2 separate regions of the Homo sapiens genome follow, and region 1 is linked to region 2. Evidence: fine-mapped expression QTL. Tissue or cell type: naive CD4 T cells. Region 2 holds a variant in brackets; the other region holds the start of a gene. All regions are shown on one strand. Distances are between the middles of the regions.

Region 1 (8,000 bases), 250 kb after region 2:
CTGTCATCTGTAGGTCACTCTCCAGCAGTTAGGCACCTTAACTGGAGACCAGAAACCTTCCAGAGAACACAGGGCTGCATCCCGAGCAACCCTCTGAAGAAGGGAATTAGGCTTTAGATTTTGATAGCAATGTTCCAGGAATGAAATATAGATGTTAGCCCAAGACACCATGACAAAATAGCCCAGCCTTTTGAGAGTAATTTGGGAAAAGAAGCTGTCAGAAGTTTCTAACTTACAAACTGGTTTGAAATTTTTGATGCCCAGACAGCAAGTATAAATCATTTTGGAGGCTTACTTTTCATGATACAAAAGCAATTCTGTGTGATTTTTTTTTTTAAGAAGAAAGAAAATGCAAGCTAGTTTTGAGAAAGGAAGGCCAAATTGGGTCGGGGGAGGGTGGGAGTGAGGAAGTTAAAATCACTATAGGGAGAAAAAACTTTTTTCAAGATTTCCAAAGAGATGAAATTTTCTTAATCCTTTTAAGTTTTCATAGTAAACAGTATGGCAGATTGGGTTGGTTGTCCTACCTGGTCTATTTTTAAAAGTCACCTTTTAAAGTGACATTATTAGATACACTTAAATGTTTCCAAGGCACTCTCTACATTACCCTTGTTTTTCTCTTTGGATACTGTCCTGGGACTAAGTGTAGATTTCTGCTTCAAGCACTTCTGGCATTGTGTGTTTTTGTATGCACTCCCCTTCATGCCACTTCAGATGTTTATTTGGATGTGGTTGGGGACGAGAGCAGACACCAAGGAAAGGGAGTTGGAGAGAATGTAAGTCCTGACCTGAAGGTCTTTTGTGATGCATGTATAGGATTGCCCTGACACACACCCTCCTTTCTTGGGATTATACCAGCCATCTTCCTGAGAGTTTTGGAGCCCTCTAGGATATTTTTTCTAGTACCCCACCCCCCACCCCTAAAGAAAGACCTTAATATGTTAAAACAGCATTGCTTGGAGAAGGTGTCATTGAATTCCGGGACGAGCCGGAGCCTTTAAATGGGTGCTTCCACCACTACAGGCTCCTGACACGAGTAACAGGCACTGTTGCTTAGAAGAACACACGAAGTTGCCGAACACAGGGTAAAATTTCCAAGGCGCTGATCGTTGCCCTGGCCAGGGCCTGATGAGAGCCAGTCAGTACATTCTTTTTTTCCTACAGTTCTTGGGTTTCAAACTTCAGTTTCAGGGAATTTCAAGTCAACAACAGGTAGAATGAATAAACTTGGTTACCAGCCTAATAATGTGAATTGCTACAGAATTATTCTTATTATGTAAGAAAACAAAAACTTTATGCAGATACTTTAGCTATAAATTGATGTAAAATACTGATTTTTTTAAAGGAAGGAGAGAACAGTATCTTGTTCAATTATTATGCAATCAATCAGTAAATGTTTTTAAAATGATACTACAGGAGAGCTTAGTAAGGAGAGGGCATGGATGGGCCAGTTTGGCATAGTTGGGAGAAATCAGTCTGGTTTCCATCCCAGTCGGGGAAGAGAGAGGTGAGAGGGAATCAGAACGTACCTAGTTGATTCCTTGGTGACAAGTGCAATGGGGTATGGGTAGAATTTATTTTCAGAGCCAAGAGGACTTGATGGTTATAAATAAAGTTGCCTTTAGCAATGGAATTTACAGATCGATCATGTTGTTCCGAAAGATGTGAATAGGATCCACAATAACAAGTTGATTCAGACTAATGTAGATATTTAGATTAGCAAGTATTGAACATTTGATTTCTTAGACTGAGGTTTTAAATGAATTTCATTATTTCTCCCGGTAATACACAGAGCATCGGGATTAGGAAATTAGCCATTTTGGATTCTGTCTGCCACAAACAGACCTATTCTAAACAGTGCTATTAAATTTTAGACTGTTGTTCAAATATTTTATTTTCTCCTAAACTACTTTTTATGGTGATGAATAATTAAGACCATTTAAAACACGGGAGTACAAGTATTTTTTTGAATTAAATTAACTTGCAAAAACCAAATTTGCAGTGGTTGGGTTGTTTCTAGACAGACTTTGGTATCAATTTAAAACCAAGATAATTTTTATATTCTTTCCAATAGAATTTCATGACAACTCCTGCAGTTTTCTTAACCTACAAAAAAAAAAAAAAAGTGCTGCAATGATGAACAAAGAATTATACAAAACCTACTTTTGTATCTTTATTTTGGAATTTCTTGTTCTATTATAAATATGGAAGTATCCCTATTTCAGAAGACATATTTTGTTAAAAATGAATTGTACATATTTAAATATGTATTTTTGCACAGGTCTTTTTTTCTGATATCCTGTTTTGGTACAATTGAGATCATCTAGTATTTATTTATTAATTAATAAAAGTAAATACCTTTTTATAATTTGAAGTGGTTCACTGCCAAGCCAATAGTTCTAGAACCTGCCTCCTTTACAGTTTTAAGGGATGCCTCTGTTCTGTGAAAAGTCTTTGTCCCTTTTAGTGTCTCGGGAGTGGATTCATACAGATGAAGTGGGCATTGCTTCTTCCTGGTTGCCTGGTTTCCCGATAGACTACATGTAACTAAGTGACACACTGCTTTTCTTTTGTTAGTATTTTATGTGTGGGAGTATGTGACTGCGTGTGTGTGTGCCTGTGCGTGTGTGTGTATACTCAGCACATGTATGTTACTATGTGATGTGGTTTAAAACTAATGGAAAAAACTGAAAGTGCCTGAAACTAGTTTTAAGCTTAGACAGAATCTCTTTAAAAAGACTTGAATGTTCAGTTGAACTTTTGGAGTTTGCTTTTTCCACCTAAATATTGTTTCTAAAATTTTAGGGGCGGAGTTGAAAACCACCAATGCTGGTAATTTTATAAGGTATTTTAAAATTAAGACCTCTTGGTTCATAGTAATTCAATTGGTGATGGATTGCCTGGTGGCACCAAGGGTTACAGATCTTTTTGTCAGCCAGCAACTTACACGATGTGTCCGTTTTGTTATTCACTCATGAAATACAATTTAAAATATTTAAAATATTTTGTATTCCAAAAATATAATACAAAGAAGTACCTCTGAGAACATTGAAAAAAATGTATAATTTGAAAAATGTAACTTATAAGGGCAGCTGTCTTCCTGCAAGAGTTCTGTTGCCAAGGAATTTCTTAATGTCGCTCATTCTGTCCAGGGGGTTTGGGGCGATTGGGCTTTGAAAAAATATTCTTAAAAGTTTGTTTAGCAGAAAATAATCACTTTTACATTTTGTGCAAAACATTTTACATTTTCAGATAATTTAAATGAGCACTACATACTGTCAGTGTGAATGTAGGGCCTTGAAAGCATTTTGCTTTTTTTTTTTTTTTTTTTTTTTTGAGCTTGGTTATAAAAGCAATCTCCTGTGTTAAAAACGTGTGAATAGTTTGATAATTTGTACACATAATCAAGAGCATCTCAGCTGGACTTTGTGTTGGCTGCTGTATAGAACATGAACAAATGTCAAGGGATAGAAAATTACTTTGGATATTTAAAAGAGAAGAAATATATAGTCTATTTGTTTTGTAACAAGTTTCTGTAAATAAAATAATTTATACTATTTATAAGAAAAGGTTGTGCTTTGCTTTATAAGAAATTAGCTTGTGGAACAAACATGTTACTAAACGGGCAATAAAATTAGGACTTCTCAATAAATAAGGTTGGCTGCATGAAATATTGTACGTTTCTGCCTCGTTGTGATACTAAACCCTTTCAGTCTACTCTGACTTTTCATCACTTTTGGCATGGAACACCCTTGTGAAGCCCCTTCAATTTAGCCTTCCTCTTATATAAGCTAAATACTTCTAAGGCCTGGGGATGTTTCCATCTGGGGGCACAAAGCTTTGCTTTGGATAAATTAGTAACTGTGTAAACAGTGAACATTACTGTATTCTGGCCTTGCATGTTTGTGAAAGAAACGAGGGAGTTGATGGATTGAGAAACACATTCTATTTGTACTTAGGTGCAAATTTGATGACATGTAGTTTTGGTTTAAGATAAGCTTTTTATCCAGACCCGGTCTAATCTCTTCCTTTCTTTTACATACCTCCCTTACTGGCAATACAAGTGCATTTTAGTATTATTTGGAACACAGCATAATCATTTACCTCTAGAAATCCAGACATTTTTACTGTTTGCAAATAAACCATTCTGATAAATTATTTTTGTTGCTTAAAATAAGAGGAGGAACCGCTGTGTGTTAGCAAGAATGTCCATACCTGATATGAAAGAGTCATGTTGGCTTCAGTTCCTACTGCCCTGTGGACTTCCCATTCCCTCCTTACTTGAGTCAACCATCCACTCAGTACTTTCCACAAATCTAATAATGAGGTGCTCTCTGTAGGTAAATCCTTTCACTATGGCTTGTCCTCAAACCTCCCAAGAAAAGGTTCAACTGCTCAATCTCTTAACCTTTTTAATTCCATTCCCTTGCAGGTATCCCGGCCCTGCATAACAAGATGATCCCAACTCAAGGAAAGGGGTTTAGCAGTGTTGGATCTTGGCGTATGTGGGATTTAACCAGGCAGAAAGGCAGACAAGAGTAAGATTCTAGGCAGAGAGAGCAAATGCGTCGAGCATGGGTATGAACATGTGAGGGATAGAGAATAATTCTGCAGGAAGTTTGCTGGATGGAAGGGCCTTATAGGGTTAGAAAAGCTGGTGTCAGATTGTCAAGGACTTTGAATGTCATGGGGCTTCTCTTCCAGGAACACATGGGATCAGGCTTAGATTAACCCAAATGTAATTGTCAGAGCCCAGAGATATTTCATGGTCCAGTCCTAGCACTGTGCAGCTGCCAAAAGTCAAAGCCATTCAAATCTGTACTGAAAACTGTGGAAAAGCAAAGGAGCACTTAAGTCTCTTTCCCCATGTCTTGCATTCTCACTCTCTTTTGCTTCAAAGATCTGTCTTTACCTGCCCCTGTCCCCAGTCCTAACAAAAAGCACTCCCCTAAATCAACTCTTAAGTTCCTCTCCCTTCTCACTCCTTTCTTAGTCTCCTCTTTCTGTAAGAAGTTCTTGCTCCTGTTGTTAATGGAAGTTAATTAAAGTAGTATTTCACCTTGTAAGGCTGTAATTCTTGGCACTTGTTATCCTCATTTTCTACATCCAAAGACCATGGACCAGAATATCTCTTAGGAGGTAAGGGAGAGTGAGGCTATCAGCCAAAGAAAAAGTCTCCAGGGGGAAGGGGAGAATCACTTATAATTTAATACTTTGTGGAAAAAACATCTCTGCCACCTATGGCCCTCCAATAACAATGGAAGACAGAATCAACAGGTGAGAACCTTGGGACAAAAATAAGTTACAAAGCTGTTGTAATCCAGGTAAGAGCTATTAAGTTTCCAAACGAAGGCTGACTGTGAGGATAAGTGATACTGATTTCAGAAATCTTTAAAAAGTAGAACCAACAAGCCTTGAGGTCTAACTCTGTTCAACATTAAAGGGAAGAGTGAGTCTAAGAAGACTTCAGGTTTCTAGCTTGGCCAAACCAATTGAGCTTTAAGTGAAATGTGCGATATGGTAACAGAGAAGGAAAAAGACATAACGATAGATTTGAGCTGCTGGTGGGAAATTCTGGTTTAGTGCCCAGCTGGCTGTACAGGCTGGTTGGACTTTAGGAGGGAGGTTTGAGCTGGAAAATAAAGATGGAGAGTTGTCTTTCAGTTTTAGATCATCAGTGAGGTCATAAGGGTAGATGGAGTTTACCTGGGAAAATTAAGTAGCTATTCGATTTGGCTTATTATTATGTTAAAATAATACTTCTCTAGTGAAGTACTTAATATGCCAGATACTGTGCCAAGCATTTTATATACATCCTCTCTTTTACTAAGCCCTCATAGGGCAGGTATTTTGATTCCAATCATACTGATTGGAACTCCTAAGAAGGTATCTTGCTTAAGGTCCCACAACGAATAGGTGGCAGATCCAGGGTAATTCAGGTCTGTCAGAACAGTGATTCTTAATTTTTTCCCTCCTCAGACTCCAGGAGTCACATGAAGTTATGCATCCTGTCTGACCGAGGCACAGGCACACCACATTTTTATATTCCGCTTCCAGGATATCACAAACCTGAAGCCCATCCTCCATGGCCCAGAGAGAAAACCCAGGACAAAACCTTGGAGAAGACTATTTTCATGAAGACAAATGGAGAAGGAGCAGTAGAGTAAAAAGAGAGGTAAGGGAAGGCATTGAGATGGTTTACAGGGTTAGATGTTTTGAGTCAATCCCATTATAATTACCAATGCTATCTACCTATTTAGTTAACGTTTTATTGCCCTGCTGTTTTCTCCAGGATAATTGGAACAGCATGTATTGGTTGGGTGGAAAAGATAGAACTTGAGCAGGGAGATTGCCAAAGAGTGAAGATGTGGCTGAGTGATTGATGATGGTCTGAACTGGGTATTCAGGGAAGAGAACTAGAAGCCAACCATGTAGAATCTATGCAGGTGCTCTTAAGACATTGGTTTGACTGGAATTATCTTCTTGTTAGGTCTTAGGAATCTCCTTCCAGGTAACTTTTTCTATGATTAGACAATTGATTTGTTCAGGGTCACAGAGCAAAGTCCACATTTAATTCCACATGGCCAATAAAAGTGAGGGGCTACAAGGTGAGATCCAGGGGCCAGAGTTATCAAAGTGATACAGCACTTTTAGGAATAGGACAGGGAATGGAGGAATTGGAATTCCAGTATTACTTTCAAAAGCAGAACTGGCCAGAGGAATTGGAATTCCAGTATTATTTTCAAAAGCAGAACTGGCCAGAGGTGCTTGTGATTCCTGGGTGGAAACCATGGCAGTGGACAGAAGCAGCATGGAGGAAAAGAGCACTGGAATTCAGGCTGAGGAACTGTGAAGCCAAGGGTGTTGTATAGGTTGTCCATTTCAAATTAGGGTTGCTTGGTTCTGGGATGATTTGCATGGAAGAGGGGAGAGTGACTTGGAGATGTGTGATTGAGGACAGTGAGCACAGTGAGTTGATGGTGTTGCTGGGTTATAAGCAGCTTCAAAGAGAAGGCATTTTGAATGAAGGTGGAAACATAATGGCCAGGAGAACAAGCAAAGGACTAGGAAACAGTGAACTTCATCTTGGCCTCAAGTTCCTGAGGTGCATATGAATAAACAGTCTCTAACCCAGAGGGTTTCAAGAAAAGCAGAGTCCTCAAAATCCAAAGGTAGAGTTTCCCCACATTGATATTATACTAATTACACGTATAACAGTACTTTGGAAAAGCACAGGTCTCTGGTCACCTCTAAAAGGCAAGGTTGGTAAGGAGGTCAGGGTGTCACCTGTTGGTAGTCTTAACTAAATGGTCTCTTCAAGGGATCTAAGGATGGAAAGGGGATATATAATGGTTGGATTAAAGGCTCATCATTGATTAGCAAATTGTCCCTTTTGTTTCTTAAACCCAATTTGTACAGGGAAAGTTATGCCACTGTAAGATATTTTTAAATGGGGAAAAAAAAAAAAAAAAAAAAAAGGTTATACCCTTTGACCATGTATGTCAAGGTTAAAATGGCCTGGATCAGATTGCTACAAATTCCTGATAGCCTTTGTATTCCTTCAGAAACACAAGCATAATGCAAATCTGTGGCTCTACAGCTTTGAAACCAAAACTAGTGATTATCAGAGCTTTTCATGTTATCCAGATGGGGATTTTACCCCACTCCCCCATTGCCATTGTGGAGGCACAGGTTTGTTACCAGCAACTACAAGTTTATGTAGCATTGGGAAGGTCAGGGATTATCATAGTTCCCTCCACGCTTTTTCCCCCATAATCATGGGGGCAGATATTTCAGCTGTCAGCTGTTCATCTTAAAAACATTAGGTTAACAGCAGCACCAAGGACTAATTCAGAATATGAAATTACAGAAATGATTTGCTAATGATTTAGTAGCCTTTTATCAGTTAATGTTTGGTCAGGTTATAAAAGACCAAATGTGTTCAGTCACAAAATCCTAAGTGTATTGAGTATTGCATGCTTAGTGATCAAGTTGTAGGC
Region 2 (8,269 bases):
GCATACAGAAGGCCCCAAATTAAGGAAGTGAATACTTGAATTGTATGCAATGACCACTCTATGATCTTGAACAAACCATTTCTCCTCCTTGTCTTCAGTTTTCTCATTTGTAAAATCAAGGGTTTTCACTAGGTGGTATCTGAGGTCCTTTTAAGTTTATATGCCCCATTATCTGCTCTACACACAGTAACTGCTTTTGTGCAGTTTAAGAGAACAATGTGTTCTTGAAAACCAAGCATTCTGTTGGGAGGATTTACCACCCATGTTTTTTTCAATGCTTCTATTTCAAAGGATAGAAAACAACAAAATAAACTAACCATTATGTTTACTGAACAGTTTATCTGTGCATTATTCAGGAGCCATTCTGGAATTCTGCAGAGGCTTTACATACCTATTTTTTTTAAATAATGAAATACTGAAAGGTCTGCTAAACTTCATGGGGTTTGGATTGAAGATAAAATGAAATGATGAATATAATACATGCAGTACAGTGCCTGGCACATGGTATGTGCTCATGACTGTGAATATCATGGCTACTAGAGAAGAAACTTTTTTTTTTTTTTTGAGATGAGGTCTCACTCTGTCACCGAGGCTGGAGTGCAGTGGCGTGATCTCGGCTCACCGCAACCTCCACCTCCCCATTTCAAGCAATTCTCCTGCCTCAGCCTCCCGAGTAGCTGGGACTACAGGTGCCTGCCACCACACCCGGCTAATTTTTTGTAGTTTTAGTAGAGATGGGGTTTCACCGTGTTAGCCAGGATGGTCTCGATCTCCTGACTTCATGATCTGCCCGCCTCGGCCTCCCAAAGTGCTGGGATTACAGGCATGAGCCACCGTGCCCGGCCGCGAGAATAAACTTTCAAAGTACCCATTTGTAGAGATTTTTTAATTGATAAAATTCACTGAGTAGTGGGCCCTTCTGATGGGCAGGACTTTCAGATCATTCAGATGACATAATTAGTTTCTTAGGAGTTCTCTATGCTCTACTTGCAATTCTCATAAATTCTGTTTCACCTCTCAATTTATACTCATAGATGTACACTCTAAAATGTGGTCCTGTGGCTGGATGGGGTAGCGCCCAAGTGGAAAAGCATATGGGTGAAGGTGCTGCCCTGAGTAGCCCTTTAGCCTTTTTAGATGAAACTTGAACTTACAGTAGAACATTTCCCATACAGAGACCCAAATTAAATTCTATAACTCTTTACTTCACAACTAGTGGTTGGAGGAGGTGGCATATTGGCTCTTCTCACATAAATATCTATAACAGCGGTGCCTGTCCTGGGCTTGGTGGATTTGCCATATTTCAAGTTATCATCAATTATATGCACAACAAGATGGTACTGCTGCTGTACTTCAGCTCTACATTCAAAGTTGAAAGGATTCTTCACAATTAATTTTGGAGTATTTGAACCTCGAGTTGGGTCAAATCCAAAATGATGGTTCTCTTTTCCTTTAAAAGTGATAATTGAGAAGTTAGAATTATTTTAAGGTATATTGAAAGATTTTCTCAAACTACCTTAAATTGCTATTAAAACACAGTAGGCGTAAATTTTTTTAAAATTTCCATTGCACCCTGAGTTTTTATATCTATACATGGCTTATAATAAAGCTGAGATCAAATGAGCAACAATTTCAGTTGGTTAGGAAAAAAAAATTTTGAAGATTAAGATCATGAATCTGATCCCATATATAGCCAGCAAGCCTCAAATTATTATCTAATTGATTCTCCTTTCCTTCTACTCAGATCAATTTGATTCCCATCTTCAACTTAGTCTAGATCAATATCAAATGGGCCGGTCAGATCATAAATATCTATTGAGCCCCTTCTAATTTTAAGTTATCTCCATAGCCCTGGAGACATTGTTGATACACAGGGTCCCTACCTTCATGGAGCTTATCACCCAGCAAGGGAATAAGACATCAAACTAGTCTTTATAATCAATTGGCAATGTCCTTACTGATTTCCAAGCTTCTACTCCTTCAGATACATGACAGCAGGTCTGATCTCCATAATTTAAATAGGTCTCCACGTTATGCTGTCTCATGATACCCAGTAGTTTTCTTTTATAGAACTTATCACAGTATGTAATTTTATAATTGCTGGTGTTACTACTAGTTTAGTAAACAATGAGTGCCGTGAATATCTGTCTCATATACTTCTGTGTACACATTTCCGAGCACATTGCCTGATACATAGTTGGTCCCAATATATGCCTTTCGTAAAAAATAAGATGGCTTAAGTTGATATGGATCTGTGCAAATCCAAAAATAACACAGTTTGAAACCACGCATCCTACTGAATCTGTACTAATAGCATCAAATGGAAAGGTGGCTGTTGTTATCCAGTACCATGGACAGCAGACTTCATTCCTTGTAACTTAACCTTCAACATTTCCCATCCAGGTTCAAAGTCCGTTGTCAAAGCATCTGTAAAATTACTGATACTTCCATTATGGGAGGAATTAGATTTGATATGTGAAAGTAAAAAAGATGCCTTGAGGAAACAATGCTATAGATATTAAATAGTTTAACTGTTATAAACATAATTATTTCTGAAGTTATACATAATATCTAACAGGGCAAAACTAATGTCAATTTGACATATGCTCACGATTAAAAGAAATAATAAAATTATGCACCAGAAACCATCTCAAAACGCATTTCAAAATCTTGTGACTCTCCGTCGTGGCAGTTCAGGGTGAAGCCATTGACATTTGTCCCAAGAACAACATTGTCAAAAATGACTGTCTTATATAGAGAGGGTGTGCAGACAGGTGCTTCATCATTCTCATTTTCAATGTCAACAGTGATCTGTCAGCCATGAGGGAAGAAGAAACATCAAATCCACACCATGTGACTACTTATACACAATATCAGAAATAAGCATAAGGGTAGAGACGGATCATTTGGAATTATTAAATAAAAAGTCTAGAGATTTGGATTTAAAAAAAATGTTCCTGCAGATTGGAATTCTGGCCATCAATCAACTAGTCAGTGGTTTATTATTCCTGGGTTAACTGTGACATTCAATGTAGCCGTTAGGTAGGATTTTGGCTCATTAGATAAGCTTGTGGAAAGCTCACAAATTATGTAAATGATGAGAAAAGGAAAGCTGAAGAATGATGCCTCTAGAAATTGTAATCCCTTGAACTCTTTAAATATCTATGCTTAAAGGCATAGATAAATTTGCTTCCTCTTTCTCAAAAGAACTTCCTCAGTACTACTCTCTCAAACTCAATATTTTATTGGTAACAATATGATTACTTCAAAGTATGCTCTGACCTTAATTAGGGACTGTTATCAACCTTTTCTTAATTAAAATACCATAAACTAGGAAACTATAATTTACGTAGAAAAAGATCAAAATATCAAGAATTTTTAAATGTCAGTGATTGAATACCAGTCAGCCTAGAAAGGTTATCTACCCACTTCTTAGATGACTAATAACTGTCTCAATAATACTTGCAGAAGAATCCGTGGTGCACCAATATTTGCAAGTATTATCTTTTTAAAGTGTTTTATGTAATGTTTTAAAAACATAGCTAAATTCTTAAGGAATGGTTCATTCTTTAATGCTACTTCTATAGACTGAATACAGCTATGTGTCTCACCAAGTATGTGAGACTTTTTACATAATAATTAAACGGATTTTAAGGAGATTTCTGGAATAGTCCAGTGCTATTTCCATTATATCACAGAAAGATATCAGGAATCTTTATTAAAATCCTGGGCCTGACACTTATTGATGACTTTATTTGGCACTAGTGACTTACCTTTTCTTTCTTCAACTGCAAAAAGCAGATCTCAATCTCTACCTTCTCAGGACTGTCAGAAGGATCAGTTCATTCATTCAGTGAATATTTATTGAATACTTACTATGTGCCAAGCACTGATCTAGACACCACAGAAGCTACAGTGGTAAACCAAAAACAAAGACCCTGATCTAATATAATTTATTCTAATGACGAAAGCAAAGCAATAACTATACTGACAAATAAATATATTAGGCAAAATCATAGGATAAGCTGATGCTATTTGGGTTAAGGAGATAGAGAATAGCTGATGGAAGTATTTTAAGAGGGATTTATTTCTTTGACCCACTCACCTATTCCCTCTCTCTCATGTTTGTTATATGTCCTTAAGCATGTATGTATCCTCATAGAATATGTAGCTTTTAGTTGTATAATTTTGACTTGCACAAATGATATGGTGCTATAGACCTTTTGTGTTTCTTACTTTTCTCACCCAGCGCCATATATGTGCTTTCCATGTTTTTGTTTGCAGAATTCATTTGCTATTTCTGGAGTCTGTATTCTGTAGTATGCATCTACCATATTTGCTTGTTCATTTCCCATGATGAACACACATGGATTGCTTCAAATGCCCACCATTACACACAATATAAAAGGCCCTTAGAAACAAATTTCATTTGGGCAGAGATATGATTAAAGTGAGAATATGAGCCAATGGAAGATAAGCATTACAGTCTTTGGCAGAGGTTCTGAGGTAAAACATTGTTGGTGTGTTGGAAAAACAACAAATGTTTCATGTGGCTGGATTGAAGTAAGTAAGAGGGAGAGAGCTAGGAGCTAAAGACAAATTGGTAGCCAGGGCCCAGATCATAGAGGGCACTGCAGACTTTGAAGATGACATTGGAGCTTAACTAAGCATGATGGGAAGCCAATGGAGAATGTTGAGGAACAGGATGATTTATCTTTTTAAAAGGTCACTCTGGCTGTGGTGTGAAGAGTAGGCTGTGAAGGGCACAAGTAGGAATGGGGGTTCTAATCAAGAAGCTGCTACACTAGACCAGGTGAGGTATGGTAAAGGCACAGTTGGGGTATTAGCAGTAGACAAGTTAGAAAAGTAAGAAGTGGAAGGACTTAAGGTACATTCTGAAATTAGAGAAGACAGAAATTGCTGTTGGATTGGAGAAATAATTTAGGGTACATGATAGTGATTAAGTACTCAGACTTAATCCTTCTCCTTCTTTCAGATGGGTAATCTTGGATAAGCTACCTAACTTTGAAGCCTTGGAAATAAAATTCTTCCATCTGTTAAAAGGAGTATCAGTAACTATTCCATAAGATGA[G/A]ATTAAATTCTAAATGAGATAATCAAGGGCATTTCATAGCACTTGACTTTTATTAGATTCTCAATAATGAGTGGGTGATGATGATAGTGATGATGATGATGATGATAGTGATGATGATGATGATGATGGATTCCTAAACTTTGGAGCCTAAAGCCCTATCTCCCTTTTCTGAATTGTGTGTATATATATATATATATATATATATATATATATATATATACACATTATATATATATATACACATTATATATATATACACATTATATATATATACACATTATATATATACACATATATATATACACACACATTATATATATATAAACACATTATATATATATAAATTTGGCATATAAATATATATAAAATTTGGCAGTTGCTATATACTAGTTAACTTCCCACATGTTAAAATTTTGAAGCTCTCTGGTCATATATGCTACCTTATACTTCCTTGTAACAAAGGATGTTGTACATAGAGTAAACATTCAATAAATATTCATTAAAGAAAGAATGAATGAGCAAGCTCCTGCTTTGTTTTTGGGTGAAACAGAGTCACTTGAAGATTTGGGGGTTGTTGAATTATTATTAAATCTGCTTTCCCCTCTTCTCATTTGTAGTAAGTAAATGATAATTCTAAGTGGTATCATCCTATACTATTTGGGAGTCCTTAAATGTCTACAGGAAAAACTGCCACAGGTACCTAGGTCTAAAGATTACTCTTATGGGTATCATACTGAGACAAACAAGCCACTTAATCCCTTCCTCATGACTGTAACTCAGTCCCTGTGAAAGTCATTCTAATTATGATATAAATGGTTGATGTTTTCATCACAATGACACACTCAGAAAACCTAATAACCACATAAGCAGCAAGCCAGGGGGCTCTGTACAATAGGAGGAAATGTACAGGGAGTCATTAGGCCAGATGGAGTCCTTATAATTATTTAAGCCTACTGTTAATGTAAATGATGAGAAAAGGAAAGCTGACGAATGATGCCTCTAGAAATTGTAATCCCTTGAACTCTTTAAATATCTATGCTTAAAGGCATAGATAAATTTGCTTCCTCTTTCTCAAAAGAGCTTCCTGTTTCTTCTCCAATGACAAAACCTTATTGTCATTAATAACACACACCACATCATCAGTACAGCAGCATTCACCCTTGGTTTCTTTCAAGAGTCCTTTGACATTGCTTACATAACTTAGAGGGCCATACCTTCCCCCACTTTGATGCCAAAAGAATGCACCTTGGTTAACTACCTTCATTACAAACATCACCTCTTAACAAGGGGCAGACTGTATTTAAGTCTAGTTCTACAAATCTTATAATTAGGGAATTAAGGGAAGTTTTCTAAACTCTGTCCCTCAGTTTCCTCACCTGTAGGGTGAAAATGATTATAGTATATTATTACCTACCTAAAAAGTTTAAGGTGAAGTTGTACCATGTCAATATATATAATGTGTCTAGAACTGAACACACGGTAAGTACTAGGTGAATATTTGACATTATTATAAGTTTATTATTTTCATCAGAATGAGGGGTATTAGCAGGTTCTTCATTTTCAAACATGCCTCAAACTTTTAAAGTATAACATGTGCAAAAGTTACAGAATGCTTAGGCAGTAAGAGAAAGTTATGAGCTTCTCTATTCTCCATTGTTGTAACTGTTTGGCCAGTCTGATTTTAATAAATTAGAATTTAATAGAGCATCTCTATAATGTCAAAATCTGGGTCTCTCTACTTATCATGGTCATTGCTGTACAAGGGTGAAATCTGTCACAGTCCACAGCTTCCACGGTGAGGTTATATTGCTTCACAGACTCACAGTCTGGCTGTGTGGTAAGTTCGATCATTCCAGAGAGAGGATGAATCCAGAATCTTTGTATAACCTGGGTGTCTCCATTGGCTATTTCGTATGTCACACAATTTGGTGGGTGCTCTTCATCAATGGCAATCACTCTTCCAACTTTATAGAATGCTGCCAATAACATTTTATAAGGCTCATTCTCATCATGCAGATACACTGCTTTAAAAAAAACTTAACATGTCTTTGCCTACCAAATAGTATCACAGTTTCTCAAAGGATCAGCCTCTATTCTTTTGGATAATGAAATATGTTTGAAGACCTTCAACTCAACATAACGGAAAACAAATTCAGAGAAAGTCCTCTATCACTTTAAACCATTTGCCTTGAGTCAAATAACATAAGTTAACAGTAACTTTATAATAATAATGATTAGCTTACATGCACTGCATGAATATTTTCTACTAGGCATCATGCTAAGATTAGCATCAGATAACGGTTCACAGCCCAGACTCTGAAACCAGACTTCCTAGGTTTCAAGTCTCAGGTCTATCATTTATTTGTGCAACTCATTGGAAGATTCTTCAACCGCTCCAGCCCTCATATTATTTATCTGCAAACTAGGAATAATATCTACCATACAAAGTTGTGAGGAGTGAATGAGCTAAAATGTATAAAGCACTTAGAATAGTGCCTGGTATGTAAGTAAATACTAAGTAAAAATTAGCTATTATTTAATTGAATTATCTCATTGAATCTTCTCAACAGGCTTATTATATATCCACTATTACAGTCCTCATTTTATAGATAAGGAAATTAGGTCTAGTGGTATTAAGTAACTTGCTCACTGTCCAGAGCTAATAGTGGTAGAATCAGGATTTAAACTGGTACCTGATGATTCTACAGCCCATATTTTTAAAATCACTTTCTGTAATTCCAGTGTGCAATACCCCCAGATAATCTCTTAGAAGAGAAATGGGTATGATCTATTGGCTGCATAACAAATAGGCTCAAATTACTATTATTATTATTATTGTTATTATTATTTTGAGACAGGGTCTCACTCCATCACCCAGGCAGGAGTGCAGTAGTGCAACCATGGCTTACTACAACCTCAACCTCCTGGCTCAAGTGATCCTCCTGCCTCAGCCTCCTGAGTAGCTGGGAGTACAGGTGCATGCCACCACACCTAAGTAATTAAAAAAAAAAAATTTTAGAGACGAGGTCCCGCTATGTTGCCAAGTCTGGTCTCAAACTCCTGGGCTCAAGCAATCCTTGCACCTTGGCCTCACAAAGTGCTGGAATTACAGGTATGAACCACTGCACCCAGTCTAGACCCAAACTCTTTATCCTTCCGATGTTCATGCTTTTTGCC

Which allele goes with the higher level. Alleles are on the strand shown, and positions count from the first base shown. SD is a standard deviation of normalised expression in the study named.
With allele G in place of A in region 2, the expression in naive CD4 T cells of the gene that starts at base 4,129 in region 1 is lower (large effect, 1.0 SD a copy in Schmiedel 2018).

What was found. PIP is the estimated chance that this variant, and not a neighbour inherited with it, causes the effect.
Region 1: PSMD6-AS2 starts here. The variant in region 2 is fine-mapped to the expression of PSMD6-AS2 in naive CD4 T cells (Schmiedel 2018, PIP 0.95).

The regions. Positions count from the first base shown.
Region 1 is chr3:63,999,894-64,007,893 of GRCh38, forward strand. PSMD6-AS2 (PSMD6 antisense RNA 2) reads left to right here and starts at 4,129. Exons shown (of 3, transcript NR_038286.1): 1 at 4,129-6,175. ATXN7 (ataxin 7) reads left to right here. Exons shown (of 13, transcript NM_001377405.1): 13 at 1-3,569. RefSeq lists an enhancer at 551-1,052.
Region 2 is chr3:63,751,411-63,759,679 of GRCh38, forward strand. It overlaps the pseudogene CDHR18P. Among named protein-coding and RNA genes, the nearest start is that of C3orf49, 64 kb to the right of the region's middle. The variant G/A (reference allele first, on the strand shown) is at 5,093.